2 separate regions of the Homo sapiens genome follow, and region 2 is linked to region 1. Evidence: fine-mapped expression QTL. A gene starts in region 1. The other region holds a variant in brackets. All regions are shown on one strand. Distances are between the middles of the regions. Region 1 holds the start of CPSF7 (cleavage and polyadenylation specific factor 7). Region 2 holds the start of SAXO4 (stabilizer of axonemal microtubules 4).

The links. PIP is the estimated chance that this variant, and not a neighbour inherited with it, causes the effect.
Region 2: its variant is fine-mapped to the expression of CPSF7 in whole blood (INTERVAL, PIP above 0.99).

Annotation. Positions count from the first base shown.
Region 1 is chr11:61,420,185-61,436,449 of GRCh38, forward strand. CPSF7 (cleavage and polyadenylation specific factor 7) reads right to left here and starts at 9,791. Exons shown (of 10, transcript NM_001142565.3): 1 at 9,730-9,791; 2 at 8,998-9,106; 3 at 1,206-1,424; 4 at 286-389. The coding sequence starts at 9,051. It overlaps SDHAF2 (succinate dehydrogenase complex assembly factor 2), which reads left to right and starts at 9,940. Exons shown (of 4, transcript NM_017841.4): 1 at 9,940-9,998. The coding sequence starts at 9,963. RefSeq lists enhancers at 9,006-9,654, 10,011-10,070 and silencers at 9,161-9,590, 9,701-9,870, 9,729-10,064.
Region 2 is chr11:61,469,259-61,485,523 of GRCh38, forward strand. It overlaps SAXO4 (stabilizer of axonemal microtubules 4), which reads left to right and starts at 11,862. Exons shown (of 14, transcript NM_145017.3): 1 at 11,862-11,958; 2 at 12,524-12,660; 3 at 13,053-13,170; 4 at 13,397-13,550; 5 at 15,430-15,558; 6 at 16,080-16,143. The coding sequence starts at 12,552. RefSeq lists an enhancer at 13,299-13,593. The variant A/G (reference allele first, on the strand shown) is at 12,046.

The DNA of each region.
Region 1 (16,265 bases):
AAAGCAAAGGACATCTTGCTAAACTAAACACACATACAGCACTAACAACAAAGAGACAGCCTAAATCTTTATTTTTTTGGAATTAAAAATCAGTATTCTTCGCCCCTTAACAGATGGATATTCTACTACACTGCAGCTAGGTCCCTTTCTAAGGCAGTTTGCCAAAACCAAGGCAGTAAGCTGGGCCAGGGGTGGGAGTGATTAAAATCCAGGGCCAAAATATAGTACAGATCTTTTATCCCAATGGTTACAAATTAAAAGGGGCTTCTCAAATCCAGACCTCACCCTTTGGACTGGCCATTTGCTCGATTCTCTGCAAATTTCAACTCCACCACATCATAGACTCCTATAGAGCGAATAACCTGGATCAGCTGCTGGTCTGTGGTCCACTGGGGCCGGCAAGATGGAAAAGGAAGAGATGTCAAGAGCTACACCCCCGCCCGCCAATGTCCCAAACCCAGGATTCTAGTCACAACTAAGTCCCCCCAGAGGAAACTCAAAAGCCTGGCAATATTTCAATTAGTGCAGACTTTTCTTATTGTCCTCACCCATACAGAATTCCAAACCCACTCACCCCCAATCTCCATCTTTAGAGATTACGAAGATTAAAACTTATTGTAACTTTGACTGCCGTTTGGGCTGGCTGGTCATCAGTTCAAACATTGACAGCTAGCAATTTTTTAATTATAGATCTGTCAGGCTAGAGTTGACCATTGCCAGAACTTCCCCCACAGTAAATATACTTCCTAATTTGGAAAAACCACCCCCACCACCAGCCCCAAAACATCACAAAATAACTTGCAGAACAACAGTCACCACCTACCCCAAGTATACTAGAGTTATCAAGGTCTTTAATCCCCATCACCCACCATTATCACAGGACCATCTAATGACCACCAAGAGTTCAAGGTGTTCACTCTGAAATCTCGTCCCTCAGATGACCCTGCTAGACATAAAGCCCCAGGGTCAGGGGCAGTAACAAGATGGCAGAAAAAGCAACTACCCACTTAATCATTGCTTTCTTCGGCACCAGTACGTCCTCAGGATAGTTCTCTTTCAGAGATCAATCCAACCTGATCCCAGGAAAAAGAAATCCAACCCCATCAGAGCACAAAACAGTGCAACAGTAGTTTCTGAAAATGCCATCACCTCCCAGTGCTCTCCCTCCAGCCCACCCCTAAGCATTTTTGGTTACCCACACTCACCCAGGAGAAGCTGCCCACATAAACGGCAGCTCGTCTATTACGCAGGCCACTGTAGGTATACAGAATTGCAGGGGTCTTGTTGTTGGGCTTGGGAGATGGCTCCTGGCGAACAGGAGGAGGTGGTTCAGTGCTGCTGCTTCTGTCATCTGAGGGCTGTGAGGTGGCTGTCAGCACATCATCATACAGGTCAATCTGATCTGTATTGTTGAACTCTGGGTCCTAAGAGATGAGGGGTTGGCAAAGGTAGGTCTGCAAACTTCATTTTGTTCATTCTATTTCACTCTAGTTTATTAGAATCCAGTTAAATACTTGGTAAAACATGTACAAAACTTCCTTGTCCTACCCCAGGAAACAAAGTAAGAAAAACCTCCTTTTGAAACTGTATCACTTAATTATGCTTATGTACATTTTTTTCCCCTCAAGATTCTGTTAATAGTCTGTAAAGTTTCTGGCTTTAGCCAACGGCAAGAATCAAAAAGCACTGGGTGATTAAGCAAGCAAAGAAAGAATGCATAATGAGATGCATGGGCTGCTGTTATCAATAAGGTCAGCTTCTAAAGACCACATCTAAGATAAGCTAATGAAAACTTATTTTCAGTATCTTATGCTATTTCCAAAATCAAGTGTTACATAAAATTCACTTGTCTATTTAATAATAAATTTATTTAGAAACAGAATGCAGAGGAAAAGCATGAAAGTGGGTACAAAAATGCAGAAAAGATTGGGAGTTACTGATTTAAATCCCTTGATTGGTATAAATGATTTAGGAAAGCTCTAAACTCATTGTACACAATCCCATCTTTCCATCGGAGAAAATAAAAAATAAATAAAAGGGAAGGGAATAACAACAGGGGTTTTCCCCTACTAAGTTCTATTTCTTAAATGACATACAGGCCCAATGCATTACCATGACATGTATCTAGGAGACTTTTTTTTTTTTTTGAGACAGGGTCTCACTTTGTCACCCAGGCTGGAGGGCAGTGGTGCAATTACAACTCACTGCAGCTTCAACCTCCTGGGCTCATGTGATCCTCCCACTTCAGTCTCCCAAGTAACTGGGGACTACAGACATGCGCAACCATGCCCAGCTAATTTTCAAATTTTTTTTGTAGAGACAGGGTTTCACCATGTTGCCCAGGCTAGTCTGGAACTCCTGGACTCAAGTGATCCACTGGCCTCGGCCTCCCAAAGTGCCGGGATTACAGGGGTGACTACCATGCCCAGCCAATATTCAATGATATACAAAAAACAGTTAAAGTTCTCTAAAATATAAGGGCCAGAAAACAGGACAAGAACATAAACTGTATCACACAGTAAGCATTTACAATATGAATATGTATTATGGAAAATGTGCAAAATACATATTCTGCCTATGTGATATCTTACTTACTATATACCAAAACCCCTAAAACTACAACTACTACTACTACGATACAGGACCTTAATGTTTAGGATTTTACAGGCTGGGTGCAGTGGCTCACGCCTTGTATCCCAGCACTTTAGGACGCAGAGATAGGCAAACTGCTTGAGCCCAAGAGTTTCAGACCAGCCTGGGCAACATGGTGAAACCCTATCTCTACAATAAATACAAAAATTAGTTGGGCATGGTGGCACACATCTATAGTCCCAGCTACTCGAGAGGCAGAAGGATCACTCGAGCCCGGGAGGTTGAGGTTGCAGTGAGCCAGCCTGGGCAACAGAGTGAGACCCCATATCAAAAAAAAAAAAAAAAAAAAAAAAAGGGTTCAGGATTCTACAATGTAATTACCTCAGAGAAATCTTTTTTTTTTTTTTTTTTTTTGAGACACAGTCTTGCTCCATTGCCCAGGCTGGAGTGCAGTGGCGCCATCTCAGCTCACTGCAACCTCTGCCTCTTGGGTTCAAGTGATTCTCCTGCCTCAGCCTCCTGAGTAGCTGGGATTACAGGCACACACCACCATGCCCAGCTAATTTTTGTATTTTTAGTAGAGATGGGGTTTCACCATGTTGGTCAGGCTGGTCTCAAACCCTTCATCTCGTGATCTGCCCACCTCGGCCTCCCAAAGTGCTAGGATTACAGGCGTGAGCCACCGTGCCTAGCCTCAGAGAAATCTTTTTAAGGATTAGACAAGCATTTTATTTTTATTACAAGAATTAGACAAAACATTCAAACAATGCTAAAGATAATGCTGCCAAAATGACAGAGACAGCAAGTAGTTCAGTGTTTTAAGGATGCTACGGCAGTTTCATATTGCTATTCTTTTAAAAAGGGAATAAAGGAGGCACCTAAGTTGGGAAACTTGTCTAGTACCCTGAAGAAACAGTTTCTCCAAGGCAACTAAAGACAGGCGGCTCCCTTAACTTTCTCCCTCCAATATCACGGCAATAACTGCTAATTCTGAAGTGATCTGAAGACGACTCACTAAAAAATTTACTCTTAGACCAGTCCTTGTATTATAAGAACCTTTGGAAACAATCTTTCAGTTTTTCAGTTTATCTGAAGTACAGTGGAAGAAAATGCACACTAAGAGAATAATCTTGGGTTGTTCTGATAGAGAAGGGGGAAGGATTCTACTTCCTAAAGCATATAAATAATTTCAAATATTAAAACACTCTAAGAAACCCACCAGGAGGGCTTAACCCTTGTAAAAACGTTAGAAAAAGAATATCAAGAGACAGTAAACTTTTAGGGGGCAACTTAACAACAAGAAATTAGTGAGGCAAATAAGCACAGGAAGCTTGTTCCATGTAGTCAAATCCATCAAAAAGGATTGTGCATAAAAAGGGTCAGCATGTAAAGAATGAGGAGAGAAGCTAACACTGGAGAGGACAGGGTGGATAATAAAGTAAGGTGAGGTCAGCTAGGGCTAATGAGTGGGAAAACATTTTGTGTGTAAGTAATCACTATAAAATATTTCATAGCTGTTACGTCTCAAACTATCCCAACTCTATAGACAAATCACTCTTCTATTCATGTACCAGGTATGGTGAGTTGCTCCTGTGGTTCAAGGTAGAGAAAGGATTTATATACATCACTTGATCCCATCCAATGCTCAAATCCTTAGAAAGCACTACTTCACACCAAGATTCTTCTTTTTTTCTGAGATAGAGTCTCACTTTGTCACCCAGGTTGAAGTGCAGTGGCGCAATCTTGGCTCACTGCAACCTCCGCCTCCTGGGTTCAAGTGATTCTCCTGCCTCAGCCTCCCGAGCAGCTGGAATTACAGGTGTGCACCACCACACCCAGCTAATTTTTGTATTTTTAGTAGAGATGGGGTTTCACCATGTTGGCCAGGCTGGTCTCTAACTCCGGACCTCAGGTGATCCTCCCACCTCAGCCTCTCAAAGTGCTGGGATTACAGGCGTAAGCCACTGCACCCAGCCTTCTTTTTTTTTAAATCAAGGATTTTCAAATGACACGTAAACAGAATAAGGAAACACATCATCTTGGATAATCGAATGGAACCAAACTGAGATTCCCTTCCATGCAGTATCTGTAATTCAGGTATATGTGTCTAAAATTTGTAATGTAAAAATGATCACTGAAAATTGAGTAGTGGACTAACATGCAGATTTGGACAGCTCAGAGACCAAATGCATCACCAGGAAACCCTTCGTACTATATGCTTAGGCAACCAATCCACTGTTTTAAGATCCCTTAAGAATAGGATAGACTAGATCCTGGAGAATCTTGGTATGGCTACCACTTTTAGAAACAAAAGGATTGAATGAATACAAAATTATCACAAGATTTAAATGGTCTCTCTGGGCCACAGAGCCTCAGTTCAAAGAAGCTGGTGGGAACTGCACAGGGCAGGTCTGTTGAGGGTTCTACTGAAGAAACAAGGTATCAAATTGTTTGGATTTTAATCCCCCAGCATCACAATTCATTTTACTTGTTCAGCTAGTAAGACAGAAACACAGTTAAGGGCCGGAGATTTTTCTCAGCGGATTTATGCAGTAATAGATTAAAGTAAAATCAAATTCTACAAATTAAGTGAAAAGTACATTTTACATGCACTGATGTTCAAAGTTTCATTCCAGGGAGATTAAACATGAAACATATATTTAATACTGAATAACTATCTCAAAGAATTTTGTGTTTAATGGCACAGAAAGAACTGTGACTGTCTCATGAAACTTCCTGCTTCCCTGTAAACAAAAGAGAACATGTGTGATTTTCAATTTAAATAAGATCTTCTCCACTTGTCTGCTCAGTGTTCCTAACCTCCACCCTCTTCTTCCTCATATCCCACTGAGGGAAGTAACTAGCCTAGGATTTATTTTTCTCAGAGCAACCAACTTGATACCATTGTTTCTTTTAATTGTAACCAAGGCTTAATCAAAAATTTTGGCTTTATAATGACCATTTCCACAGTTCCCACTTCACACCCTCCTTGTCCTTCACTGTACATTGTCGTTGTCCACCACCCCTACCCACCAGGAGTGGAATCTGTTTTGAGTACAGGGACCCACTTTTTTTTCCTTTTACCTCACTAGTCCTGGCACAGTGCTTAGCAAACACAAGTAGCTCAATAAATAAATACTTATTGATGGACATAAGGAAGAGAACTGGACACTGTGCAAAGCCTGTCTCAGTATGAAAAGCCAAAACTCCCAGCAGAGCAACTGATCTCAGTCACCTTTCCAGAGTTCTCCCTGGCCCAAGAGAGCCAATGTGAATCCCAGGACTCCCTGTGTTACAGGAATAAAGTAGCTCTGGCAAAAACAGGCTTTTGCAGCAAATGCTCTAAGAGATCAGGGAATAAGCACCATAGGGTTCCATCTAGGAAAAATATTAATTTTCCTTGAGGAGCAAAGTGCACATGAAGGGCTTCCTGTGCATGGGCCAGCTTGGGGCGAAATCAGTAACATTCTTAAAACATTCTAAAACACAATTTGTACTGGGTGCCTTCAGACTAAGCCAGCTTCTAACAATTCTAGCCAAAGTTTTTTTGTTTTTTTGTTTTTTAAATAATTTCTGTAGCTTCCAGATGACACTAACACTAACTTTGTCAAAAATAACTAATTGATATGTGTGTGGGGGGGAAGCACTCATCCCTCACCTTCCACAAAACATAAGATATTCAAAATTCACACTTTCTTCAGCTTGCCTAGTGTCAAATATTGCCCGTTGGATATATGTATCTATTAAAGTCCACATACTACCTTTAGCCTGTCTTAGACCCATAAAAAAGTCCTTTTTAACTGAGGAGACCAGAGAACAAACTATTGAGGCCAATAACTTATACTCTAACAAAGCAGTGACCACTGGACAATGAGTTCTGCGTATTTCTCAAAGTGAAATGAATGGCACTATTATCAATCCACAGATAAGAAATTAGAAGGGGAAAAGCTTTTCATTAATAACAAAGGTGGCTGGGTACGGCGGCTCACGCCTGTAATCCCAGCACTTTGGGAGGCCGAGGTGGGCAGATCACAAGGTCAAGAGATTGAGACCATCCTGGCCAACATGGTGAAACCCCGTCTCTACTAAAAATACAAAAATTAGCTGGGCATGGCGGTGCGCGCGCCTGTAGTCCCATCTACTCAGGAGGCTGAGGCAGGAGAATCATTTGAACCTGGGAAAAGGAGGTTGCAGCGAGCCAAGATGGTGCCACTGCTCTCCAGCCTGGCGACAAAGAGAGACTCTGTCTCAAAAAAAAAAAAAAAAAAAAAAAAAAGAGAAGAACTAAGGACCGCTCTTGTTATCTTGGTGGGGGAAAAACATAATCTGCAAAAAGTCTGAACTGGGCAGAGTGGCTCACACCTATAATCCCAACAGTTTGGGAGGCTGAAGTGGGAGAATCGCTTGAGCTCAGGAGTTGAGAGACCAGCCTAGGCAACACAGCAAGACTGTGTGTTTTTTTTTTTAAGGTATTAAAAGTCTGATTCAAATGAATATGGAAAACTCAGGAAAACAATGATTTTGTAACTAAATTAACATCTAGAACTTTTCTCTTTTATCCATAATTATTGGACTTATTTAAAACTAAAAAATTTTTTCGCCATGCACGGTGGCTCACGCCTGTAATCCCAACTTTGGGAGGCTAAGGCGGGCGGATCACAAGGTCAGGCATTCGAGACCAACCTGGCCAACATGGTGAAACCCCGTCTCTACTAAAATTACAAAAATTAGCCAGGTGAGGTGACCCACGCCTGTAGTCCCAGCTACTCAGGAGGCTGAGGCAGGAGAATCACTTTAACCTGGGAGGCAGAGGTTGCAGTGAGCCGAGATCGCGCCACTGCACTCCAGCCTGGGTGACAGAGAGAGACTCTGTCTCAAGAAAAAAAAAAAAAAAAAAGGAAAATTCATCTATTTAAGATAATCAGCAGCTATATTTAAAGGACCACAGTTAACCACAACAGAGACAAGAAACCTGCCATTAAAAAGTATAATTGGTGAAGCTGTATAATGGGTACAAGGTCATTACATTATTCTGCTTTTGTGTATGGTTTATAATTTCCATGTTATAAAACCATAATACATCAAAAAATAGATTTTCATGTAAACTTATGCCAAGTGAAAAATAAATGGCATGTATCCGCCTCTTCTGTTGCCTCATATCAAAGTCAGGGTCAAACCAGGGAACTTTCCCTTTCTAACCCATTCAATACATGCTCTTACCAGGTCCTTATGTGTACCCACTGGAAGATGCAAATGGGAAGAGCCAGCTTACTTACATAGAATGGTGCTGAAAATAACCCAGGCAAGATATTAGTACGTTTTCAATAGAAATTTTGGAACATTCTTGAGAATTGACCTCAAGACTGAAAAACTTAACTGCATGGAAGATTATTTCTTTGAGAGAATTTTTCTTGTGTTTTTAAGAGTCAGGGTCTTGTTCTGTTGCCCAGGATAGAGTGCAGCGGCCCAATCATGGCTCACTGCAGCCTTGAATTCCTGGGCTCAGGGAGTACCTCTTGCCTCACTCTCCAGAGTAGATGGGACTACAGGCACAAGCCACCATATCTCGTTGTTGTTTTTTTTTACATTTTTGTAGACTGGGTCTTGGTATGTTGCCCTGGCTGGTATTGAACTTCTGGTCTTAAGTAATCTTCCCATCTCAGGCTCCAGAGCAGCTGAGATTACAGTCAAGAGCCACCTTGCCCAGCTCTAGATAAATTTCTGTATAATGTTCCCTGGTACAATAAAAACAAATCCAACTGAGGGTATGTGCATGGGTCTATTATCAGTTTTCTAACTGGTTTGTCTAACGTCTTTACTCTTTTATTCCCTCTAGAAAGACTAAAGGTAACCAATACAATTTATTATACCAAAATGCCTGTGGACTTCTCATGACTGGAGTCAACCTACTTATAAAAGGAAGTAAAACTTAATTGGAATGGAGTTGAAACTAAATGTTAAAGTCATCTTTTCTACTTTGCTTTTGCACTGTCACGATGGAGGGGACTACACTTCTCCAGCTGCAGGTTGAGAATGTAAAGGAACCGGTATCAACACTGTCCTCATGAATACCGTAGCAAATGTACTTTTGATTTTTAAGTGTGGTTAGTCTGACACCCACCTTTGGCTTCCTGGGGAGTAAATTCCACAGGTTGATTCACCATTCTATTACACCTGCTTTTTATTTGCTCTTAAATCAAAGCCTTTAAAATTAAGCCTGGAGCTTCAAATTAACATAAAGAGGAATGGAGTGTAGTCTTTAAAGTTTCTGCAGGAGAAAAATTTTAGACCGGATAGACGCGTGTTCAAGCCTAGGACTGGTACAGCTTGAAACCACTGCCAGTTTGCTGAAAATGATTCCTCAGATGATCAAGGAAAATCCCAAAGCTCCTGATGACACCTCACCTGGTTGAACTCCTCGTCAGCATATATATCAATCAAGTCCACTCCTTCTGACATGGCTCCGGAAGGAAGATCGCGAGTCCGGAGGATGGACAAAGTAAGGAAGATGCCACTGCGGGATTCGGAAAAATGCAAGAATTAGAAGGCACGAGGGTCCTGGGCTGGGAAGAGGGTAATGATTGCTAACCTCCCATCTCCAGAGACGCAGCATCCTGGCGGCCCCAGCTCGGCCCCACCCGCTCCGCCCCGCCCCCGGCCTCGCGCCGCCCACCGCTCTCCCAGGCCGCCGGGGGTCGCTGCCCATCACCCTCGGGCCCGACCCGGGTAGCGCCGCGTCTGCGCCGCAGCTGCCTATGGCGCGACGGAAAAGTCCCACCCTCGGGTCCTAGTGGCCCTAGGACGGCGTTGCGAAGAATGACCGCGGCGAAGCCCGCAGCCCCTATCCGCTGCACCTGCCTAGCCCCCAAGGCGGCTCCGGCCAGAGCCCCCAGGTGTCAAGCAGCTCCAGCCGCCTCTGCCCCCAACCCAGGCCTACTCTTCGCCCCCAGCTAGGCCCGCCCCGCTCCCTCCCGACAAACCCGGCCCGGCGCGCTCTGCCTCCTCCCTCAAAAGGCCCGCGACTCCCTCCGCCCGCAGACTCCGGCCGTCCCATCTCAACCGACCCCCTTCCCGCCTCAGTGCCGGCCCGGACCCCTCTTCCGGCCCAACCTGCCCCCGACCGCGCGCCCCCGTTACCGGGAATATGGCGGCGGCGGCGGCGAGTCCGGACTAGGCCCGAAGCGCGCGAACCGCTCTCCGCCCCAGGTCCCGCCCCCCCCGCCGCCGGCGTCACACGCACCGCCACTTCCGGCATGCGCAGGGACGCACCTTCCGGCTCAGCTCCTCCGTGGCTGCCGTGGTCGGCTGGCCGGGCGGCTAGGAGTTCCCGGAAGTGCCCGCGCAGCCGGTTTCCGGTGCAGGTGGGGAAAATGGCGGTGTCTACAGTGTTCTCGACTTCGTCGCTGGTGAGGAGAGAGAACGTTCTAGCGTCCGGGGCGGGCGGCAGCGGGGATTACCCTTTGTCTTCCTCTGTGGTCTCTATCTTGGGGAGAGTTCGTCTGCCCGATAGCGCAGGGCAAGGGCAGGCCCAGGGAGAGGCCGATCCTGCAACTCAGGAAATAAAGGTCGCTTCCATTCTTTGGTGAGCCTACTGTGTGCCGGTCTGGAAATATCTGCTTAAACGATCAGTCATCGTCCAAGACCCAATTCGCCTCTCACCTACGTCCCAGGCGGGATTAGCCCAACTTCCCTGGGCTCCCCTTCTCCCCGTTCTTTAGTCTTTAATGCTTTTCGTGGTTTCACATAGTATCTTCAGCTTTTTGTTTGTTTATAATTGACATATAATTGTACGTGTTTATGGGGGTACAGTATAATGTTTTAATACATGTGTACATCGAATAATCAAATCAGCGTAGTTAGCATGTCCATCACCTCAAATCTTTATCATTTATTTACGGTAATAACTTTTCAAGATCTTTTTCTAGCATCTTGACATATACAGTACAGTGTTATTAGCTGTAGTCACTCTAATATGTAATAGAACACTGGAACTTATTATTCTTTTTTCCTAGCCTGCTGTTATAAAGTAACTAACTTTGCCTCTATCTTCCCCTCCTACCCCCATCCCTATCTTTATTCTTTTTTTTTTTTCCTGCAGACCCAGGGACTCGATCTTTATTCTTTTTTGATGTAGGCGTTTACACTATAAACTTCCTTCTTAGTACAGCTTTTGTCGCATCTCATAATTTTGTATATGTTGGGTTTTAGTTTGTCTCAGGATATTTCCTTTTTGTTTGTTTTTTGTTGTTTTCCTTTTTTTTTTTTGAGACGGAGTTTTGCTCTTGTCGCCCAGGCTGGAGTGCAATGGCACGAACTTGGCTCACTGCAACCTCCACCTACCGGGTTCAAGCGATTCTTCCGCCTCAGCCTCCCAGGTAGCTGGGATTACAGGCATCGCCATCATGCCTGGCTAATTTTTGTATTTTTGTAGAGATGGGGTTTCACCTTGTTGGCCAGGCAGGTCTCGAACTCCAGACTTAAGGTGATCCGTCCTTCTCGGCCTCCCAAAGTGCTGAGATTACAGGCGTGAGCCACCGCGCCCGGCCTGTTGTTTCCCTTCTTTTTTCTTTTTTTCGTAGAGACAGGTTCTCACTATGTTGCCCAGGCTGGTCTCAAACTCCTGGCCTCAAGTGATCCTCCTGCCTCAGCTTTCCAAAAAGTGCTGGGATTACTGGTGTGATCCACCATTCCCGGCGTGTCTCAAGATATTTTCTAATTTTCCTTTTGATGTCTTCTTTGACTCATTGATTGTTCAAGAGTGTGTTGTTTAATTTCCACATATTTGTGAATTTTCCACCTTTTCTTTTGCCATTGATTTCCAGATTTTAATAAAATGTCTCTTGTGCGGCATATAGTTGAATCTTTTTTTTAATTCATTATATTCAGCCACTTCATGTCTTTTGGTTGGGGAGGTTATGTTATGTTATGTTATTTTCTTGAGACAGAGTCTCGCTCTGTCGCCCAGGTTGGAGTGCAGTGGCATGATCTCGACTCACTGCAAGCTCCACCTCCTGGGTTCACGCCAATCTCCTGGTTTAGGAGTAGCTGGGACTACAGGCGCCCCCCACCACGCCTGGCTAATTTTTTGTATTTTTAGTAGAGACGAGATTTCACCGTGTTAGCCAGGATGGTCTCGATCTCCTGACCTCGTGATCTGCCCGCCTCAGCCTCCCAAAGTGCTGGGATTACAGGCGTGAGCCACCGCGCCAGGCCTGGAGTTTAATCCATTTATACCTAAAGTAAATAGTGGCCGAGGTGGGTGGATCGTGTGAGTCCTGGAGTTCGAGACCAGCCTGGGCAACATGGCAAAACCCCTTTTCTACTAAAAAAAATTAGTCAGGTGTGGTAGTACACACCTGTAGTCCCAGCTACTTGAGAGGCTGAGGCGGGAGTGCGTCTGAGAAGTCAAGGCTGCGGTGAGCCTTGATTTTGCAACAGCACTCCAGCCTGGGCATTGGAAGTGAGACCTTGTCTCAAAAAATAAATAAAATAGGGAAGTACAATCATCCCTTTGTATCCATGGGATGACTGTTGTAGGATCCGCTGTGGATATCAAACTCTGCAGAAGCTCAGTCTCTTATATAAAATGGCATAGTATTTGCATATAATCTACACACATACTTCCATATCCTTTAAATTATTTCTAGATTACTTATAATACCGAAAACAATGTCAAGGCTATGTATATGCTTGTTATACTATATCTTAGTTGTTTTTTAATTGTTGTATTATTTATTTCTTTTGAATATTTTTGATCCACAGTTGGTTGAGTGTGCAGTTGGTTGAATTTACAGGTGTGGAACCCACAGATACGGAGGGCCAACTGTGCTTGCTGTTGCCGTTTTGTAAACTGTTCTCTGTCTTACAACCTTTTTGCTCCTCTTTTCCACTCTTGTCATCCTTTATATTTCGTTGACTTTTTTTTTTTTGTAGTGACATACTTTGAGAAACGAATTTCTCATTTCCTTGTGTGTCTTACACAGGTATTTCTTTGTGGTTACCATGTGGCTTATATAAAACATAACAATCTGTTTTGATAACTTAATTTCCATTGCATACAAAAACTCTGCTCTTTTATGACCCCCTTGTATGTTGTGGATGTCACAAATTACATCTTTTTATATTGTCTCCATTAACAAATTTTTATAGTTGTTTTTATACCTTTGTCTTTAATTTCTATACCAAAATTAAAAGTGACTTACATACCACAGTTACAGTATTATAGTATTCTGTACTTGTCTCTCTCTATATATTTTTTTAATTTAATTTTTTTTTTTTTTTGAGACGGAGTCTCGCTCTGTTGCCAGGCTGGAGTGCAGTGGCGCGATCTTGGCTCACTGCAACCTCCATCTCCTGGGTTCAAGCGATTATCCTGCCTCAGCCTCCCGGGTAGCTGAGACTACAGGCGCCCGCCACCATGCCTGGCTAATGTTTTGTATTTTTAGTAGAGATGGGGTTTCACTGTGTTAGCCAGGATGGTCTCCATCTCCTGACCTCGTGATCCGCGCACCTCAGCCTCCCAAAGTGTTGGGATTACAGGCGTGAGCCACCGCACCCGGCCTCCAGTGATAATTTAACACAACTCATACCAGTATCACACAATTCCCTGGAACTATGTGACAACCATTATTGTTTCTTTTATGGAATGCTGCCTTGATACTAACAGAAAAAAATGGGTGAAATTTGGCTAAAATAATAAGACATCCCAATTATTAGAACAATTTCCTTGTACTGATGAGGATAGTCCTCCCCATCCGCATTCATTTCTGTAGAAATTACTCAATCATGTTATTTTAGTATAGAAAGTAGGAATCCCTGCCTTCAGTCTGCATCAGAATCTCTTAGAGGGTTGTTAAAAATTCATTCGTCAGGGCCCAGTCCTAGAGATTCTCATCCAGAATGTTTATGGTGGGGCTTGGGAATCTGAATTTTCATCGCATGCTGTATTAGTTTACTAGGGCTGCTATAACCTGTGTGGTTTGAAGAACAGAAATTAATTTTCTCATAGTCCTGGAGGCTAGAAGTCCAAGAGCAAGGTGTTGGCAGGTTTGGTTTCTTTCGAGGCCTCACTCCTTGCCTTGCAGATGGCCACCTTTTCACTGTGTCCTCACATTTCTCTGTGCATGCACATCCTTGGTGTCTCTTTTGTGACTTTTTAAAGACATAGGATCTTGCTTTGTTGCTCAGGTTGTACTTTAACTCTTGGGTTCAAGCAATCCTCCCACCTCGGCCTCCCAGGTAGCTGGGACTATAGGGTCATGCCACTGCACCCAGCTTTTTCTGACTTTTGACAGTTTGATTAAAATACGTCGCAGTATGGACTTCTTTGGGTTCATGTTAATTGAGATCTGTTAGGCTTGAATCTGGATGTCCACTTCTTTCCCCAACTTTGGGGGTTTTTAGCCATTATGTCTTTTTTTTTGAGATGGAGTCTCACTCTATCACTGAGACGAGTGCGATGGCACAATCTCAGCTCACTGCAACCTCTGCCTCCTGGGTTCAAGCAATTCTCCTGCCTCAGACTCCCCAGTAGCTGGGATTACAGGCACGCGCCACCATGCTTGGCTACTTTTTGTACTTTTAGTAGAGACGGTTTCGCCATGTTGGCCAGGCTGGTCTTGAACTCCTTACCTCAGGTGATCCGTTCACCTCAGCCTCCCAAAGTGCTGGGATTACAGGCATTAGCCACTGAGACCAGCCAATTATGTCTTCTAATAAGCTTTCTGCCCCTGTCTTTCTCTTATACGACTCTCATAATGTGTATATTGATCTCCTTGATGGAGTCCCTAAGGCTTTCTTCACTCCTTCTCATTCCTTTTTTTTTTTTTTTTTTTAGAAAAAACCCTGACTAATTTCAAATGACCAGTCTTTGAGTTTGCTGACTCTTTCTGCTGCTTGATCAGGTCTACTATTGATTTTCTCTAGTGAATTTTTTAATTTATTTTAATTTTTTAATTTTTTTTTTTTTTTTGAGACGGAGTCTCGCTCTGTTGCCCAGGCTGGAGTGCAGTGGCACGATCTCAGCTCACTGCAAGCTCCGCCACCTGGGTTCACGCCATTCTTCTGCCTCAGGCCTCCCAGGTAGCTGGGACTACAGGCGCCCGCCACTATGCCCGGCTAATGTTTTGTATTTTTAGTAGAGACGGGGTTTCACCATTGTTAGCCAGGGTGGTCTTGATCTCCTGACCTCTTGATCCACTCGCCTTGGCCTCCCAAAGTGCTGGGATTACAGGCATGAGCCACCACGCCGGGCCTAATTTTTTAATTTTTATGTATTTTTATTTTTTAGAGACGGGGTCTCACTGTGTTGCCCAGGCTGGTTCTCGAACTCCTGAGCTCAAGCGATCCTCCAGCCTCAGCCTCCCAAAGTGCTAAGATTATAGACATGAGCCACCGTGCCTGGCCTCCTCTAGTGAATTTTTCAATTCAGTTACTGTATTCTTCAGCTCCAAAATTTTCATTTGGTTATTTTTTAATGTTTTCTGTCTTTTTTTTGGTTTTCTCATTTTGTTCAAGCTCAATGTTCAAGTTCTCAATGTTCCAAAGCTCATTGAACATCTTTATTATGGCTAGTTTGAATTCTTTATAGGTGATTCATATACTTCTGTTTCTTTAAGGTTAGTTTCTGGAGATGTATTTCGTTCCTTTAATAGGACCATGTTTTCCTCTTTATTCATGTGCTTGGTAACTTGTACTGGTGATTTCTACATTTGAAAAATCATCTGTCTCTCCTGGTCTTTGTACTGGTGATTGGCCTTCACTAGTCAGCATGGATAGAGATTCCAAGGGCCTCTCAATCCTTTACTGAGGATGTGTCTTTTCTGGACTTGCGGATGTAAATTCCCATTTAGAGGGATTTGCCGGTTTCCTTTTTCAGGAGCCCATAATCTCTTGCTCCCTCTAGTGTCTGCGTATGATACTGCAGTTTCTCTGGAGCTGCTACAAGTCTCCCAGCTGTCGGTGGCCTCCAGACTTTTAGAGTATGCCATGTCCCATCAGTGCCCCAAGCTGGGCAAGACAGAAACCAGTCCCTCTGGTAGCTTCCCCAAAGGACAGAATGTTACGACTGGGTGTGGTGGCTCACGCCTGTAATCCCAGCACTTTGGGAGGCCAAGGTAGGCAGATCACCTGAGGTCGGGAGTTCGAGACCAGCCTGACCAACATAGAGAAACCCTGTCTCTACTAAAAATACAAAATCAGACGGGCGTGGTGGGGCATGCCTGTAATCCCAGCTACTCGGGAGGCTGAAGCAGGAGAATTGCTTGATCCTGGGAGGCGGAGGTTGTGGTGAGCCGAGATCGCGCCATTGCACTCTAGCCTGGGCAACAAGAGCGAAACTCCGTCTCAAAAAAAAAAAAAGTCAGAATATTAGATGCACACTCCACTCCCCTCAACCCTGGGAGAGGCCACTGGGCTGTATTGGCCTTTCTCTGCAGTTTCAGGGATCCTCTGGATCAGCAGCAGGCCACCCAGGCATTTAGAGTGTGCTAGATCCTTTCAAGTGCTTAGAGACAGAAACCAGTCCCCCAGAGAGCCCCAAAAAGCTAGAATGTTGGATGCATACTGCACCTGTTTCCCTCCCTAGGGAGAAGCTGGGAGGTGGGAGTTTTCTCCTGCTTGTTCTGCACTGAGCCAAGGATGAGTGATGAGGGAGTGAGTGCTTGCCAGTCTAA
Region 2 (16,265 bases), 49 kb after region 1:
GTGTGTGTCAGAGAGAGACTGTTCTAAGCAAGCACATTACATGGAAGTAACTGGAATTGGAACTCAGGCACGTTGGCCTCCAGTAAGCATGCTTGTACTGTTACCCTACACGGCCCTTAGGTTAGCACAGAGAGATTATTTATTTATTAAAAAAAAATTTTTTTTTGAGATGGGGTCTCACTCTGTCACCTAGGTTGGTGTGTAGTGCTACAGTCTCAGCTCACTGCAACCTCTATCTCCCAGGCTCAAGCAATCCTACCACCTCAGCCTCCCAAGTAGCTGGGACCATAGGCGCACACCACCACACCTGGCTATTTTTTTTTTTTGGTAGAGATCGGCTTTCTCCATGTTGCCCCGGCTGGTCTTGAATTCCTGAGTTCAGGCAATCCGCCTGCCTCAGCCTCCCAAAGTGCTGGGATTATAGGTGCCAGCCACCAAGCCCAGCCCAGAGAGATTATGTGTAACTCTCTCTACTACTAGTTCCATGGGGGATAAGGACCATACATACATTACGTTCCATTCTGTTCTGTGTTTTAGCACAGTGCCTGGCACATAGTTGGTGCTCATTAAATGTTCATTGAATGACTAATTGACTGATGAAATAAATGAAGGTAGAGACTCTTTATGAAGCTGCCTGTGCTGGATCCAAGACCATTGATATCTGTTGCAAATGGAAGTTGTTAATGAGACTCAACAAGTTAGTGGAAAATGTTTTGAGTGTTTTATGAGATTCTCTTTTTTTTTTTTTTTTTTTTGAGACAGGGTCTCACTCTGTTGCCCAGGCTGGAGTGCAGTGGCGAGATCTTGGTTCACTGTAGCCTCAACCTTCCAGGCTCAGGCGATTCTCCCACCTCAGCCTCCCAAGTAGCTGGAACCACAGGCATGTGCCACCACGCCCAGCTAATTTTTTGTTCACCATGTTGCCCAGGCTGGTCTCAAACATGGACTCAAGCAATCCACCCACTTCGGTCTTCTGAAGTGCTGGGATTACAGGCGTGAGCCACTGTACCTGGCCTTTTTTTTTTTTAATTGGTTAATTTATTTATTGAGGCGGAGTCTCACTCTGTCGCCCAGGCTGGAGTGCAGTGGCACGATCTCGGCTTACTGCAACCTCTGCCCCCCGGGTTCAAGCGATTGTCCTGCCTCAACCTCCCGAGTAGCTGGGATTACAGGCGCCTGCCACCGTGCCTGGCTAATTTTTGTATTTTTAGTAGAGACGGGGTTTCACCATGTTGGCCAGGATGGTCTTGAACTCCTGACCTTGTGATCCACCTGCCTTGGCCTCCCAAAGTGCTGGGATTACAGGCATGAGCCACTGTGCCCGGGCTTTTTTTTTTTGTTTTTTTAATTAACTTTTTTAAATTTTAAATTTGAGACAGGGTCTTGCTATGTTGGCCAGGGTGGTCTCAAACTCCTGGCCTCAAGCAATTCTCCCACCTCAGCCTCCCAAATTGCCGGGATTATAGGCCTGAGCCACTGCACCCAGCCACAGGATTCTCTTAAAACCACAAACTTACCATACTTTCTAGATGTTTCCTTTCCCTCCTATGCATGATATAGTTAGCCACTATCTAATTGAAAGGTGTACTAGTCACGTTAGGCTAGACTATGATAATAAATAAACCCCCAAATCTCAGCGACTTAACAACGCAACCCTTATTTCTCATTTGTGCCAAGTCCAATGTGAACTGGGCAGCTGTTCAGGACAGCTCCTTTCTGTGGCAGCCCAGGGATCCACGCTCTGCCATCTCAACATGTGGTCTCCACGGTTGCTACTAAAGGGAATGAGAAAGTGCGGATAACTCACATTCACTTGCAACCTGGAAGCAACACGTGACACTTCTCCGAGCCCTTGGGCCGGAGCTAGTCACATGTTCCTGTGGAACTGCAAGGAGCCTGGGAGGTGTGGTTCTCCCTGGTACCCAGGAAGGAGAAGAGAACCAGATCTGGCTGAGCCTGAAGTCTCTACCACAGTCTGTTCTGCTGGTCTCCATGTACCGCATTGGATTTGCTCTTCTTCCTACACACAACACACAACATGAAACTGCTTTCCAAGAGAGAAAACCCAGAGTGATGTGCAGCTCCTGCCTCCAGCCAGGATCTCATGGGCTGCCCTAGGGTCTCTTTATGAGGTCTAGAGGTGGCCTTTTTTGGTCCAGAGATGTAGGAATTTTAAAAAGTTACCTGTTGGGGGCCGGGTGCGGTGGCTCACGCCTGTGATCCCAGCACTTTAGGAAGCCAAGGGGGTGGATCACCTAAGGTCAGGAGTTCGAGACCAGCCTGGCCAACACAGTGAAACCCTGTCTCTACTAAATATACAAAAAAAAAAATTAGCCAGGTGTGGTGGCACGTGCCTGTAATCCCAGCTACTCAGGAGGCTGAGGCAGGAGAATCGCTTGAACGCAGGAAGCAGATGTTGCAGTGAGCCAAAATTGTGCCACTGCACTCCAGCCTGGGCGACAGAGCGAGACTCCGTCTCAAAAAAAAAATAAATAAAAAATAAAAATAAATTTTAAAAGTTACCTGCTGGGCACAGTGGCTCACACCTGTAATCCTAGCACTTTGGGAGGCCGAGGCAGGTGGATCACTTGAGGACAGGAGTTTGAGACCAGCCTGGCCAACATGGAGAAACCCCATCTCTACTAAAAAATACAAAATTTAGCCAGGTGTGCTGGCGCATACCTGTAATCCCAGCTACTCGCGAGGCTGAGGCACAAGAATCATTTTAGCCTGGGAGGCAGAGGTTGCAGTGAGCTGAGATCATGCCACTGCACTCCAGTCTGGGTGACAGAGCAAGACTCTATCTCAAAAAAAAAAAAAAAAAGGCAGGTTACCTGCTTCTCCCTTCCCACCCCCACGCCATACACAAAGGTGGAGTAGGGGCAGGGACAGGATAACCACAGTAAGGATACCCCGGGAAGTGGGAGCTGAGGCCTTCTGGGCAGACCTTGTGGAGGGGTAGGGAAGTTTCTGGAAGGAACTACCTTCATCGCTGCTCTCAGGGCCGCTTGGCTCCCTCATTTAAAGCTCTTTTTCCCCTACCTTACTTTACTCGATCATATCTGAAGTAGGGATTGTGTGTTCCACCCTCCTTGAGGGTTGTGTGGATTTCTCAGCCCACTTCCTGCCCATGGAAGTTTTAAGTTTCAAATAGTCACAATCTTTTTAAAGACCAGGCCCATGGCCAGGGGCGGTGGCTCATGCCTGTAGTTCCAGCGACTTGAGGCTGAGGCGGGAGAATCTCTTGAGTCCAGGAGGTTGAGGTCACAGTGAGCTATGATTGCGCCACTGCACTCCAGCCTGGGTGACAGAGCAAGACCCTTTCTCTAAAAAAAAAAAAAAAAAAACAAAAACCAAACAAAAAAAGCCCCATTTTTTTTGGGCATTACTGTTTTCTCAAAATTTCAGTAGGCCTCTCATCTGTCTGCTTCCAGTGAGTTTCATATGCCTGAATGTGACAGTTAATTTGTGTCTCAATTTGTCTAGGTGACTGGGTACCTGGATATGTGATCGAGTATTCTTCTGGGTGTTTCTATGAGGATGTTTTTGGATGAAATTGGCATTTAAATTGGTAAACTGAGTAAAGCAGTCTGTCCCCCTAACCGGGGTGGGCTTCATGTAATCAGCTCAAGGTTTGAATACAACAAAAAGACTTACACTCTCGCAAGTGAAAGGCAATTCTTTCTGCCTGGTAGCCTTCAAACTGAGACACAGGCTTTTATCCTGCCTTCAGATTCGCCTGGGAACACTGGCTCTTCCTGAGTCTCAAGCCTGCTGGCCTTGAGACAAGAACTACATCAGCTCTCTCAGTTCTCAAGCCTTTGGACTTACTCTGGAACTAAGCCATCAGCTCTCTTGGGTCGTCAGCTTGCCAACCAACTCATCCTGAAGATCTTGGGACTTGCCAGCCTTCATAGTCACGTGGGCCAATTCCTTTTTTTTTTTTTTTTTTTGAGATGGGGTCTTACTCTGTTGCCCAGGCTGGACTGCAATGGCACGATTATGGCTCACTGCAGCCTCAACCTCCAGGGCTTGAGTGATCCTCCCACCTCAGCCTCCCAAGTAGCTGGGACTACAGGCACATGCTACCATGCCCAGCTAATTAAAAAAAATTTTTTTTTTGTAGAGACGGAGTTTCACTGTGTTGCTCAGGCTGGTCTTGAACTCCTGAGCTCAAGCAACCCTCCACTTCAGCTTCCCAAAGTGCTGGGATTACAGGCATCACTGGCCCAGGCAGAGCCAATTCTGTATAATAAATCTGTCTCTCTCTGTCTCTCGTGTATGTGTGTGTGTGCACATTCTGTTTTGCTAGAGAATGCTGACTAATACAGAATCACATCCTAATTTATTTCCTAAGAAGTTCTCAAATCTTCATTTCTTTGCTTATGCCGCAGTAACAAACAAAACCCCAAACCTTAGAGGCTTAAAGCAGCAAGGTTTATCTCTCTATCACATCCCAGTGTGCTGCAGGAAAAGCAGCTCCAGGGCAGCTGACTCCATGCAGTGACTCAGAGATCCAGCCTGCTTCCATCTTTTGGTTCTTCCATCCCAAGTGTGATTTCTACCCACAGAGAATGGAAAACTCACACCCACCTCTAACTACTCAGACTGGGAGTGGCACTGCTCAATTCCACCCACAGAACCAGCCATGTGGCCCTTATCTAACTGCAAGGAAGGCAGGAAAATGCAATGATAATCATAAACATTTCTTGAGTGCTTTCTCTATGCCAGGCTGTGTGCTAAGCATGTAAATATTGTCTTTTCTGTATTCCAAGCCTAAGTCTCTTAAAGTTCTACTGTGACCTCATCATACAGCCAAGGAAACAGGCTCGGAGAAGTTAAGGAAGTTGTCCAAGGGCACATACCTCATAAAGGCAGGGCTGCAGAATTGAACCCAGATCTCTGTGCATTGGAAACCCACCCCCTTGACCCCTGTCCTGGTTCCTTGCTCATCTCTGCCAAGAATATCTTCATTCCATCTGAGGATTGGGAATGGCTTCTTATTTTCTGCCTCATCTCATTTCATCTTCCCCGCGAGTCATGAATTTTTAAACCTTGTGTGAGATCAACAAGTTCACCCAGAGGAGACAGTAAAAGAACAGAACAGGCAGGAACAGAACAGCCATCAGATACACAGGATAGAGTCTTCCAGGAAATGCCCACTGAGGGGAGAAATGAACCACAAGTGAGGCCAGGATTGTGGGAGGCTGTGAGGGAAAGCAATCCGGTCATCAGGGGAATCATTTCCTTTTACGAAAGAGAGAGAGATGGGACTTAGCCATTAGACTTGGGCTATTTCAGTTCCTGGTAATGACACAGCTCAGTGAATAGAACCCCCAAAGCACTTTCGGAAGGGGGGCCCCAGTCCTGGGCAGCTCTCCTGCCTTAATCACTGCAAGTCACAGAGCAGAGAAACTGGAAATGGGCAAAATCGATGACAGGCCTGCCTGCAGACCACGCCCTGGACCCAACCTGCGCCCCCACGGTCATTATGTCACCCATCACTCCTTGGTGCTCACACAGCTGAGCCCATGAAGCAGGGCAGCCCCCACTCCCAGGACTAGACAGAAAGGTGGTTGCACGAATCCAGGGCTCCATGCTCTTCCCCATCGCAGGGAAGACAGGGCCTCACAGACTTGATGTCCTCCCAGTCAGCTCTTCTCTGCCATGATCCCCTTTATGCTGCGTCCCAGCTTCAAACTGCTCCCCTGAAAGGGTCAGTTGGAGCAGCTGAGCTTGGGGCATCTCACCTGGGTGAGCTTTGTTGGTGGGCTCAGAAGAATCTGGGTTGGGAAACAGTACTCTGGGGGCAGAATGAGGGGTTCAGTGAGCCCTTGTGTCCTTTGTGGGCACCTTGGAGTCTGGCTTGGGAGAAACTCCCTGTGCAGGTCCAGCAGGCCTAGAGGCCAGGCTGAGTGTGGGTTGGCATGAGGCCGACTCCCCTCCATGCCCCGCTGTAATAAGGCAGAGGGGAAGGACCTTGGAAGGGGGTAGGCTGGGGTCCTGCTATGTCACAGATGGCAGGTGAGGGGCCCAGGGGGAGGGGACGTGGAACCAGCCATCACTTCAGTATATGAAGACAGAGCTCCAAGTTCTCCAGGCCAAACAACACATCTCAAACTAAAGCAAGCCAAACCTCCTATCCTGGCTCAACCCCCTCTTCACAGGCAACAGGATCAGAGGGAGGCAGTTAATTAAGAAGGGTCACATAGCACTATTTGTGCCAGAGCCAGACCTCAAACTCAAGCCTAGAAAAGGCTCAGAAAGGGGCAGGCATGTAACCTCAGATCACCTGAAGCCAAGAAACATTACTCTAGGCTTGTCCCAGCCTCCAGCATGGGAATTTCAAAAGTAGGAGTATAATTACCCTCTCCCTGCCACCCCCAGCCTCCTGGGCTGGGAGGGCTCAGTGCCTTTAGCTGCATCCCAGGGATCTGTTTCCCATTTCTCAATCATCTTAGCTGATTCGAACAATTTCAGACCTTTCTTCTGTGAATTTTTCACCCAGCAGTGCCCAGCACAAACTGAGGACCATGAGAGGGGTGAACTCTTTAAAAGGATTTTTAGGCCTAGCATGGTGGTTCACACCTGTATTCCCAGCACTTTGGGAGGCCGAGGCAGGAGGATCCCTTGAAGCCAGGAGTTTGAGACCAGCCTGGGCAACAAAGCAAGATCCTGTCTCTATAAACATTTTCTTAAAATCTTTTTATTTTTTTTTCTCTATAGAGGTAATCAGGTTTAAAAAGAGATTTAAAAAGTCATAGGAGGTCAGATTTTGAAAATAGATCTGAGAACCTCTAGCTCAACCTTTGAGGCAATATCAAAGTGGTCACCAGCATGACCTTTGAAGTCAGGATGTCTGGGTTCAAATAATGGCTTTTCCCCTTAGTAGCTGTGTGACCTGTGACAAGTTACGCAGCCTCTCTGTGTCTGAGTTTCTTCATCTATAAAATGGAGGAGCTGATACCACCCACCAGGTAGGAATGCGGTGAAGTTTAATTGTGCTAATCATGGGAAGTGCTTAGAAACAGTCCCTGATACCTAACGAACCAGTGAAAGTTTGCTCTTATTGTCATCCTGTCAAGCTGTTGCATGCCTCCTGGGATGGGGAACTCACTCCCCCCAGGGCAGCCTGTTCCCCTATTGGATTATTTTGTGTGTTAGGAGGCTTTTCTATCCATTAAGCTGAAGTATGCCAACCTGTCTCTTCCCTACAAGAGCCCTGGCTTCCCTCTGAGGGCGGCTATAAAGACCCACATCAACCAAAGCAAAATGACACACACTTGGTGGTGTGTGGCTCATTCACTTCAGTTAATCCTCTTTTAGGGAACTGCAGCCCACATGGCCCAGCACAGAGCGCAGATGTCTGTCTCTGCTCAGGACTCAGCACTCAGTGGTGGTGTGCTCTGGCCTCGGGAGCCTGTTAGGGCCTACCCCACTGATCCCAGCCAAGGAACTCTATGGGCTGAGACCCAGCATGTCCTCTCACTGGGTCCTCTCTGCTAACCTAGTGTGTCTGTAGCCTCTGCCTTCGTATGGGAGGGAAACAGGGGAATCTTTTTTTTTTTTTTCTGAGATGGAGTCTTGCTCTGTCGCCCAGGCTGGAGTGCAGTGGTGTAATCTCGGCTCACTGCAACCTCTTACTCCTGCATTCAAGGAGTTCTCCCTGCCTCAGCCTCCCGAGTAGCTGGGATTACAGGCGCCCACCACCATGCCTTGCTAATTTTTGTATTTTTAGTAGAGACGGGGTTTTGCCATGTTGGCCAGGCTGATCTCGAACTCCTGACTTCAGGTGATCTGCCTGCTTTGGCCTCCCAAAGTGCTGGGATTACAGGCATGAGCCACTGTGCCCGGCTGGAAACGGGAATCTTACTGCCCAGGACTGGGCAGAGCTAGAAAGTAGGAGGCAGTTGCCCATCTGGCCAGGGCAGCCCATCCCTTTGGAAAATCATCCCTTTGGAAAAGCCCAGTGCTAAGGTCCCGGCGCTTTCTGGAGAATTTGCTGGTGTGTTCCAGAGGGCGGGGCATAGATTCCAGGGTCAAAGCTGAGTTTGGATCCCAGCTCCACTCCTCCCTGTCTGCGAGGCCTCAGGCAGTTTCCTCACATGTAACATGGGCAGGATTATAGTAGTTCCCACGTAGAGCCGGGAGTGAAAAGCGATGATGAGGTGATTCGTAGCTCAGCTCTGGCACAATAAAGTGCTGAATAAATGGGGACAGATATGGGAAGGGAGTGGGATGAGGTGGGCCTAGATTTTCCAGTATGGAAGGACTTTTAGTCTGTTCCTTCATTTTGTAGATAGAAGGACTGAGGTCCACAGGTGACAGGTCCAAAAGTCACGCTGCTCTTGGGTCACCTGGCACCTGGGCTCCCGCTCCTTGTGGGCTCCAGCGCTTGCCCTCCCGGAACACTCCTTGCCCAGACGCAACCCTCCTGTTCTGGAGGGATGGGTGAGTGAGGCTTGGGGTGGGGCTGTGGCCAGGTCGACGGAGCTGCTCTGTCCCCAACTCCTAGGACCCCCCGACCCCGGTCTTAGGGATTCATCTGCGGCATCTCCTGCAGTTCCGAGTTATGGCCGCTGGGTGTCGCCACACAGCAAAAAACCCACGGGCCGCCGGGAGGACGGGACCTAATGGGGGCTCTGATGGGACAGCGCCGGCCAGACCCTGATCCCCGACCCTTGAACTCCTGCCCAGGTCCTTGGTCGGCTACAGCCTAGAGCCTCCCTAAGAGAAGCCCTAAGGGATGATTTCAAACCTTTCTACCACCCCTCCTTGCCCCCTCCACCTGCTAAAAGGAAAACCTGGCTACAGCCTACCTGGGGGCTGCTTCTCCCAGCTGAGCCTCTCCTCCCCACGCAGTGCTCCAGCCACGCTGCACTAGTCAGGGCTCCCAGCCTGCTGGACACCTGTCTCCGCCTTTGTGTTTGTCGGGCTTTCCACGTAGAGGGCCCTTCCTTATCTCTGCCTGGTGCAGGCCTGTTACCTCTTGTGCATAGGGTATTTCAAATCCACCAGCGACCCTGCTAGGTAGGCACAGTTATCCCTGCCTGCAGGTACAGAAACAGGCTCAAAGAGAGGAAGCCCCGAGTCACACACAGCAGAAGCAGGTTTTGAACTCGGGCTCCCACAGTGAGCTTTCTTTTGCTACATCTGAGATCCTTCCTAAACCGTGGGCTCTCTGAGGCCAGGGCCATGTGGATTTCCTGTTTGTAACCCTTAGGCCCAACCCTTTGCCTAGCAGGCAGTGAGTACTCAAAAGGAACCTCTTTCCCTAGCTCTTAGATGGCACCTACCGTGTGCCAGGTACTGGGCTAAATGCTTCGTGCGTACCACAACCCTGCAGGTAGTTACCATTATTATACTCATTCTCCAGAAGGGGAAACTGAGGCACAAGGAACATGCACTGTCTTACGGTTATCTAGTGGCAGAGACAGGACCCACACCATCTGGCTTCAGAGTCCAAGCTCTTGCTCGTAGCCACTTATCCAGGCACACTTAGAGGAGGGCCCCTCTCTCCCTTCACCCTGTGAGCACCTCACCTATGGTGGTCTCACCCTTTGTGCTTCGTGTGTGGAACTCCCACGAGCCTCTGTAGTAGAATGGGAGCACTTTGCTGGAGGGCAGGGCTGTGTGCACTCACTCCTGTGTCCTTGTGCCCTGTGATCCCTGAACAGAATCGTTAGTCCGGAGGGTGGGTGCCAAACGTGCTTCAGCTTGCCTTCCCATGGGGGGCTGGGTGAGGACACGAGTGAGCCTCCACCCTGGCAGGCCAGGTCACTACAGGATGAATGCGGCAAGGGCATCTCCTGGGTGAGGAAAGGAGATGCCTCCTTTCCCTTTATTCAGCCTTCATTCATACCTCACTCTCCCCTGAGAGCAGGGGTGCTCTGAAGCCAGCTCTACCGGCTCAGGAGAGCTGAAGGCGAAACTTCCAGGAAATTGGCAAGCTGGTTTTTAACTCTGCCATTGTTAAAAATTAAATTACTGGCCGAGCGCGGTGGCTGACGCCTGTAATCCCAGCACTTTGGGAGGCTGAGGCAGGCAGATCACTTGAGCTCAGGAGGTCGAGACCAACCTGGCCAACATAGTGAAACCCCATCTCTACTAAAAATACAAAAATTAGCTGGGCGTGGTGGCGTGCACCTGTAATCCCAGCTACTCAGGAGGCTGAGGCAGGAGAATTGCTTGAACCAGGAGATGGAGGTTGCAGTGAGCTGAGATCGTGCCACTGCACTCCAGCCTGGGGGACAGAGCAAGACTCCATCTCAAATAAATAAATAAATAAATAAATAAATAAATAAATAAATAAATAACTTAAACCTGCAATTTAATGAATTATATTAAAAACAAAAAAAAATACCTAAAACTCATCACCCCTTAATTATGTGAGTACATTTTTCTATTATTTGTGCTGTCGAGGTTACTTACGCCCATTATGTCTGCATGATGGGACTACTCCCGTACAGTGGTGAGCGACCTTCCCATGTCCCGGTTCAAAGACACTGTAGTGGTGGTTTGAAAGCAGCCCTGATGGGACCACTGACATCACAGAAATTGGCAAATGCTGCAAAGTAGGGCTATCCCACCCCACCCAGAGATCTAACTGTTACAACATTTACAAGCCTGAAAGCCAATTTGAGGCAAAAAGGCTGTCATGGAAGAAGATTCTCACTGTGGAGTTTGCGCACTCAGATTTGAGTCCAGGCTCCGTCTCCACCCACTGTGGGGCCTGGGCTATTTCCCCTTGAGCCTCGCCTTTCCTATCTGCAAAATAAGACTAAAAGTACAGCAGCTTTTGCAAATTGAGCATTTGCCGAGTGTGGTGGCTTGCCCCTGCAATCCCAGCAACTCAGGAGGCTGAGGCAGGAGGATCACTTGAGGCCAGGAGTTCAAGACCAGCCTGAGCAACATAGCAAGACGCTGTCTCTACAACAAATAAATACATAAATAAGCAAGTCAGGCAGGGGGGAGCACACCTGTAGTTCTGGCTACTTGAGAGTCTGAGGCAAGAGGATTGCTTGAACTTAGGAGTTGGAGGCTGGACTGAGCTATGATGGTACCTCTGTACTCCAACCCAGGTGAGAGCATAAGATCCTGTCTCTCTTAAAAAAAAAAAAGAGCATTTACTACCTGTCAGGTGCTGAATCCATGCTCTTGCTAAATCTGCCAGCAGCCCTGTGAGGTGGGTGCAGTCACGTCCCTTGCGAAGATGGGGATTTGGGGGCGTGAAGAGGATAAGTACCTCATCAAAGGTGACAGATCAGATTTGAACCACACTCTTAACTGCTGCGGTTTATTGGCCCTACAATAATAGTGCCCAGTTCACAGGGTGGTTTGGGGGATTACACGACGTAATGTGTGTTAAAGGGCTTAGCACAGATTCAGCTCCAGAGGAACATAGTAAATGTTGATTTACCGAGAGGCAGAAGAGCGGGATCCACATCCACCCACGTTTGAATCTCAACTTGGCTATTTTCTGATTGCGAGATCTCTGGAGTCAAGTCATTTTGCTTATCTAAGCCTCATGTTCCCCCAGTGAAAATGGGGATAATCATAGCTACTGAAGAGCTGCTCAGAGGATGGAGATAGAGGATGTAAAGTATCTGCCGAGAAGTGGGTACTTTATGGGAGTGAGTGTTCGGGATTATCTTTTATTTTATGTCACGCAGACAGCAACTCTTCCCAGCCCTGTGGAGGAGGCCGGAGGTTGGGGCCGGAGCCCTGGAAGCAGGGCCTTGCTCGGGCAGCTTCTGACCCTCCCCTCCTGGCCAGGTCAGCCCCTCAGTGGGCCCTGGCCCTAGAAGGTCTCAGAAGCCTGGGGACGCTGTTGCTAGGCACCAGTTGCTAGGCTACACATTGTTTCTCCTGCTTGGCCTCCTCCAGGAGGGCTGGCTTCTCTGCAGAGCTCTGCTTCCTGCAGCCTCTCCCCGACCTCAGAGCCTCTGCAGAGGAAAGGTGAGGGTGGGGCCGCTGTGGTTGGGCCTCGGGGAGAGTGCAGCCAATTCCCAGGGGAGGCAGGCAAGGCCAGAGGCGGGCAAGGCC[A/G]TGGAGATGAGGGAGAGAGAGGAGCCGGGGGCTGGGAGTGAGCGCCTCGGCCTGACTTCTTGGGTGGGGGCCAAGAATTCCCCAGGTAGTGGGTTGTCGGCTCATTCATTCCGAGAGGTGGGTATGTAAGGTTCAGGTCAGGGGCCGAGTAGTCAAACACCTAGGTCTGAATCCCAGCACTACCACCTATTATGGAGCAAATCCTTTATCACTTGGAACCTCACTGTCCCAGTGGTAAATGGGGACAGGAAGAGTTAATAAGAAGGTGTGGGAAAGTGAGAGGAGACATGAGGACTCTTGGGATAAGTGTGGATGATCGGTTTCGTCCTTAGTTTAGGGACTTGGGAGCTGGGGCAGAGAGACAGAGGCCTGGGAGAAGGGGCCAGCTGCGTTGTGGGTGGTGGGGGGCAGATCTTCGCCCCTGTGGGCTTCCGAGCCAGGCTTGGGACCCATGAGGCTCCCCGTGCTTCCTTTCTAGGCCCCCTGGGGCCCTGCCCCACAGCATCATGATGGGGAAACTCCCCCTGGGGGTCGTCTCCCCTTATGTGAAGATGAGTTCGGGGGGCTACACGGACCCCCTGAAATTCTACGCCACCAGCTACTGCACCGCCTACGGTGAGGGTGCCTTTGCGCAGGAGCCTCTGCTAGGACATGGGCAGGAAGGGAGGGGCTCTCTCTGAGGGAGGAGCAGACCCTCTGGCTGTCACACTGCAGAGCAACTGCTGAATCCGTTTGTCCCCTGGGCCCTGCCCGGCTGCTCCCTTCTCTGGTTCTGTCCCTGCAATTCTGTCACTGTGATTCTGCCACACTGACCTTGTCCCCAGCCCACCCACTCCATTTCCTGCCATCACAGTCCTGAAAGGGCAGGCTTGCAAAGCTCCTGCCCGTGGCTCTGAGCCCTCCCCTGTCACTGTGACCCCTGTGCCCCTCGGAGGACGCTGGCCCTGCCTGGGAAGCCCTGCCTGTTTTTGACCTTGGGGTCTGTCTCCCCGTTACCCCTCTGGCAGGTCGGGAGGATTTCAAGCCCCGTGTGGGCAGTCACGTAGGCACCGGCTACAAATCAAATTTCCAGCCCGTGGTCTCATGCCAAGCCAGTCTGGAGGCCTTAGACAACCCGGCCAGGGGGTACGGTCTGTATGGCCCCTTCCCAGCCCCTGCCCTGCTCATCAGACCAACTCCAGGTTCCTTGGATGGGGACCCTGAGCTTTGCCTGCCCTAGGCTGGGGGTCCTGGGTGACTCAGGGCACAGCGGACCTCTGAGCCATCTGTGGGAGGGTGCAGGGAGGAGGGAAGCTCCTTAGCAGAGGACAGAGGCAGGCGGCCTGGGGTTCTAGCTCCTCCTCACCCTCAGGGAACAAGCCCAGGACCATTTCCAGTCTGTGGCCAGCCAGAGCTACCGCCCCCTGGAGGTGCCTGACGGCAAGCATCCCCTGCCCTGGAGCATGCGCCAGACCAGCTCAGGCTATGGGCGGGAGAAGCCCAGTGCGGGTCCCCCCACCAAGGAGGTCAGTGCTGGGCCAGGGCCAGGAGAGGGAAGCCTCAGGGTGGGGTGGGGCTAGGGCTGCACTGCCAACAGTTGGTCAAGGTGGAGGTGACAGGGCATGGAGCAGCCACCTTGTAGGGATGGGGTCCACTCATCTTTCTCCCCTTTGTCCTCATCCTTGTCCCCACCATCCCCACCACCTCTATTCCCTGCCCCAGCCCCACCATTACCTCCACCTCCATTTCCATCCCCATCCCTGTCCCCATTCCCATGAGCCTCACACTCCCGTCCACACCTGCAAGCCCCATCACTGTCCCTACTACCACCACTGTCCCCCCACCATGGACATCCTCACCCCATCTTTTTCATTTCTTTTTCTTTTTTTTTTTTTTTTTTTTGAGATGGAGTCTCACTCTGTTGCCCAGGCTGGAGTGCAGTGGCACGATCTCGGCTCACTGCAACCTCCACCTCCTGGGTTCAAGCGATTCTCCTGCCTCAGCCTCCCCAGTAGCTGGGATTACAGGCATGTGCCACCACACCCGGCTAATATTTTGTATTTTTAGTACAGACAGGGTTTCACCGTGTTAGCCAGGATAGTCTCAATCTCCTGACCTCGTGATCTGCCCGCCTCAGCCTCCCAAAGTGCTGGGATTACAGGCGTGAGCCACTGCGCCCAGCCCCATCTTTTTCATTTCTATCCTCATTATTACCACCCTTCTTATCATCAGCACCACCACCAAAATGGACACTCATTCATTCATCCAGCGAGAATGTTCTGAATATCTCCTTCATATTTGAAGATGATAAGAGCGGGTGGAGTGCGGGGTGGGGCGGGGGTTAGGAAATACAACAGGGAGAAGCAGGGAGGAAGAGAAGTGAAGGAGTTGGAGGCCAGGTGCGATGGCTCACACCTGTAATCCCAGCACTTTGGGAAGCTGAAGCAGGCAGATCACTTGAGGTCAGGAGTTTGAGACCAGTCTGGCCAACATGGTGAAACTCCATCTCTACTAAAAATACAAAAACTAGCTGGGCATGGTGGCACGCACCTATAATCCCAGCTACTCAGAAGGCTGAGGCAGGAGAATTGCTTGAACTCGGGAGGCGGAGGTTGCAGTGAGGCTGAGATTGCCTGGGCAATAGAATGAGACTTGGACTAAAAAAAAATAAAGCCAGGCGTGGTGGCTCACACCTGTAATCCCAGCACTTTGGGAGGCTGAGTCAGGTGGATCACTTGAGGCCAACTGCTGTTGGGTCAGCCTGGCCATCATGGTGAAACCCCATCTCTACCAAAAAAATACAAAAAAAAAATAGCCAGGTGTGGTGGCTTGCATCTGTAGTCCCAGCTACTTGGGAGGCTGAGGCACAAGAATTGATTGAACTCAGGAGGTGGAGTTTGCAGGAAGCTGAGATCATGCCACTGCACTCCAGCCTGGGCAACAGAGCGAGACTCTGTCTCAAAAAATGTAAGTAATAAATAAATTAGAAGCGAAGGAGTTGCAACTGCAAATCGGGAGGGTCGGGAAAGAGCTTGCTATGGAGACACTGGACAAAAACTTGAGGGAGGCCAGCTCCTCCAGTTGCAGCTGTCTGAGGGAGGAGTGGTCCAGGCAGTGCCAACAGCAAGTGCAAAGGCCTCAAGGTGGGAACAGAAAGGAGACAAGCAGCTAGAGCAGGGTGAGGCACTCAGGTCCTTGCAGGCCACCAGGAGGACGTGGAATTCCCTGCGAGTGTGATGGGAAGGCTGCAGGGCTCTAAGCAGAGAGGGGACATGCAGGTTTCATTGTAAAAGGACCCCCTCTGGCTGCTCTGCAGATACTGCGCTCTGTAAAGGTCAAGGGCAGAAGCAGAGTCAGGGAGTGACTGCCGCCCCCTCACTTGTAATTGGCCCTTCTTCCTCCCAGGTCCGGAAGGTCCATTTCGACACCCAGGAGCACGGGCCTCAGGCCATCACGGGGCTGGAGCCCAGGGAAGTGCCTCTGCTCCACCAGCAGCAGGGCCAGGACCCGCTGGAGCGGGAGAACTTCCGACATGTGAGTGGCAGCCCAGCTAAGGGCTTCGGGGTGGGGCAGAGGGGCCACACCCGCCTCTTCCTCCCACCTCAAGACAAGTATTGCACTGACTCACCCAAGAAGCCAGCTCAGGGTGGGCTCAGGGCGCCAAGAAAGATGGGAGAGCAAAGGATTTGATATTGGCTATTTCCAAAATAGCCTCAATGTGGCTTCTCGCGATTTAACGCTACTCCTCTTCCCCCAGCCTTCCTCCTCCTGCTCACGGCCCCTCCTGGTCTCGGTCCCTCTGGGCCCCCCACTCATTACCAGGAGTCTGGTGTGGGGTGTGACGTGGTATTCATAGTCACAGGGGAACTGTGCTTTGTGCTGAAATTCCTGGCCCTGCGATGTCCCACCCCACAGAGACTTGTGTCCAGGGTGCTGTACTGGCCCACACAGGCTTCCTCAGAGCACAGAGAACCGAGGCGCCACTCCACCGCCGCCACACGCCTTCGGGGCCCTGGTGGGTCAGTGCCCCCACTCCTCCAACCTCTCTGTTCCAGGGCCCACGCTTCATGACGTCGGAGTACAATTCCAAGTATCTCAGGGACCCTCTAGACCAGCCAGGTAGGCCCTGTCTGAACTCACAGCTCCCTTCCCATCTTCCAATCCACCTCCCTACTTGCTACCCCAGGGGCCCTGGAGCTGGCCTAGGACTGAGAAGGCACCAGTGGAAGAAAGAAGGATGC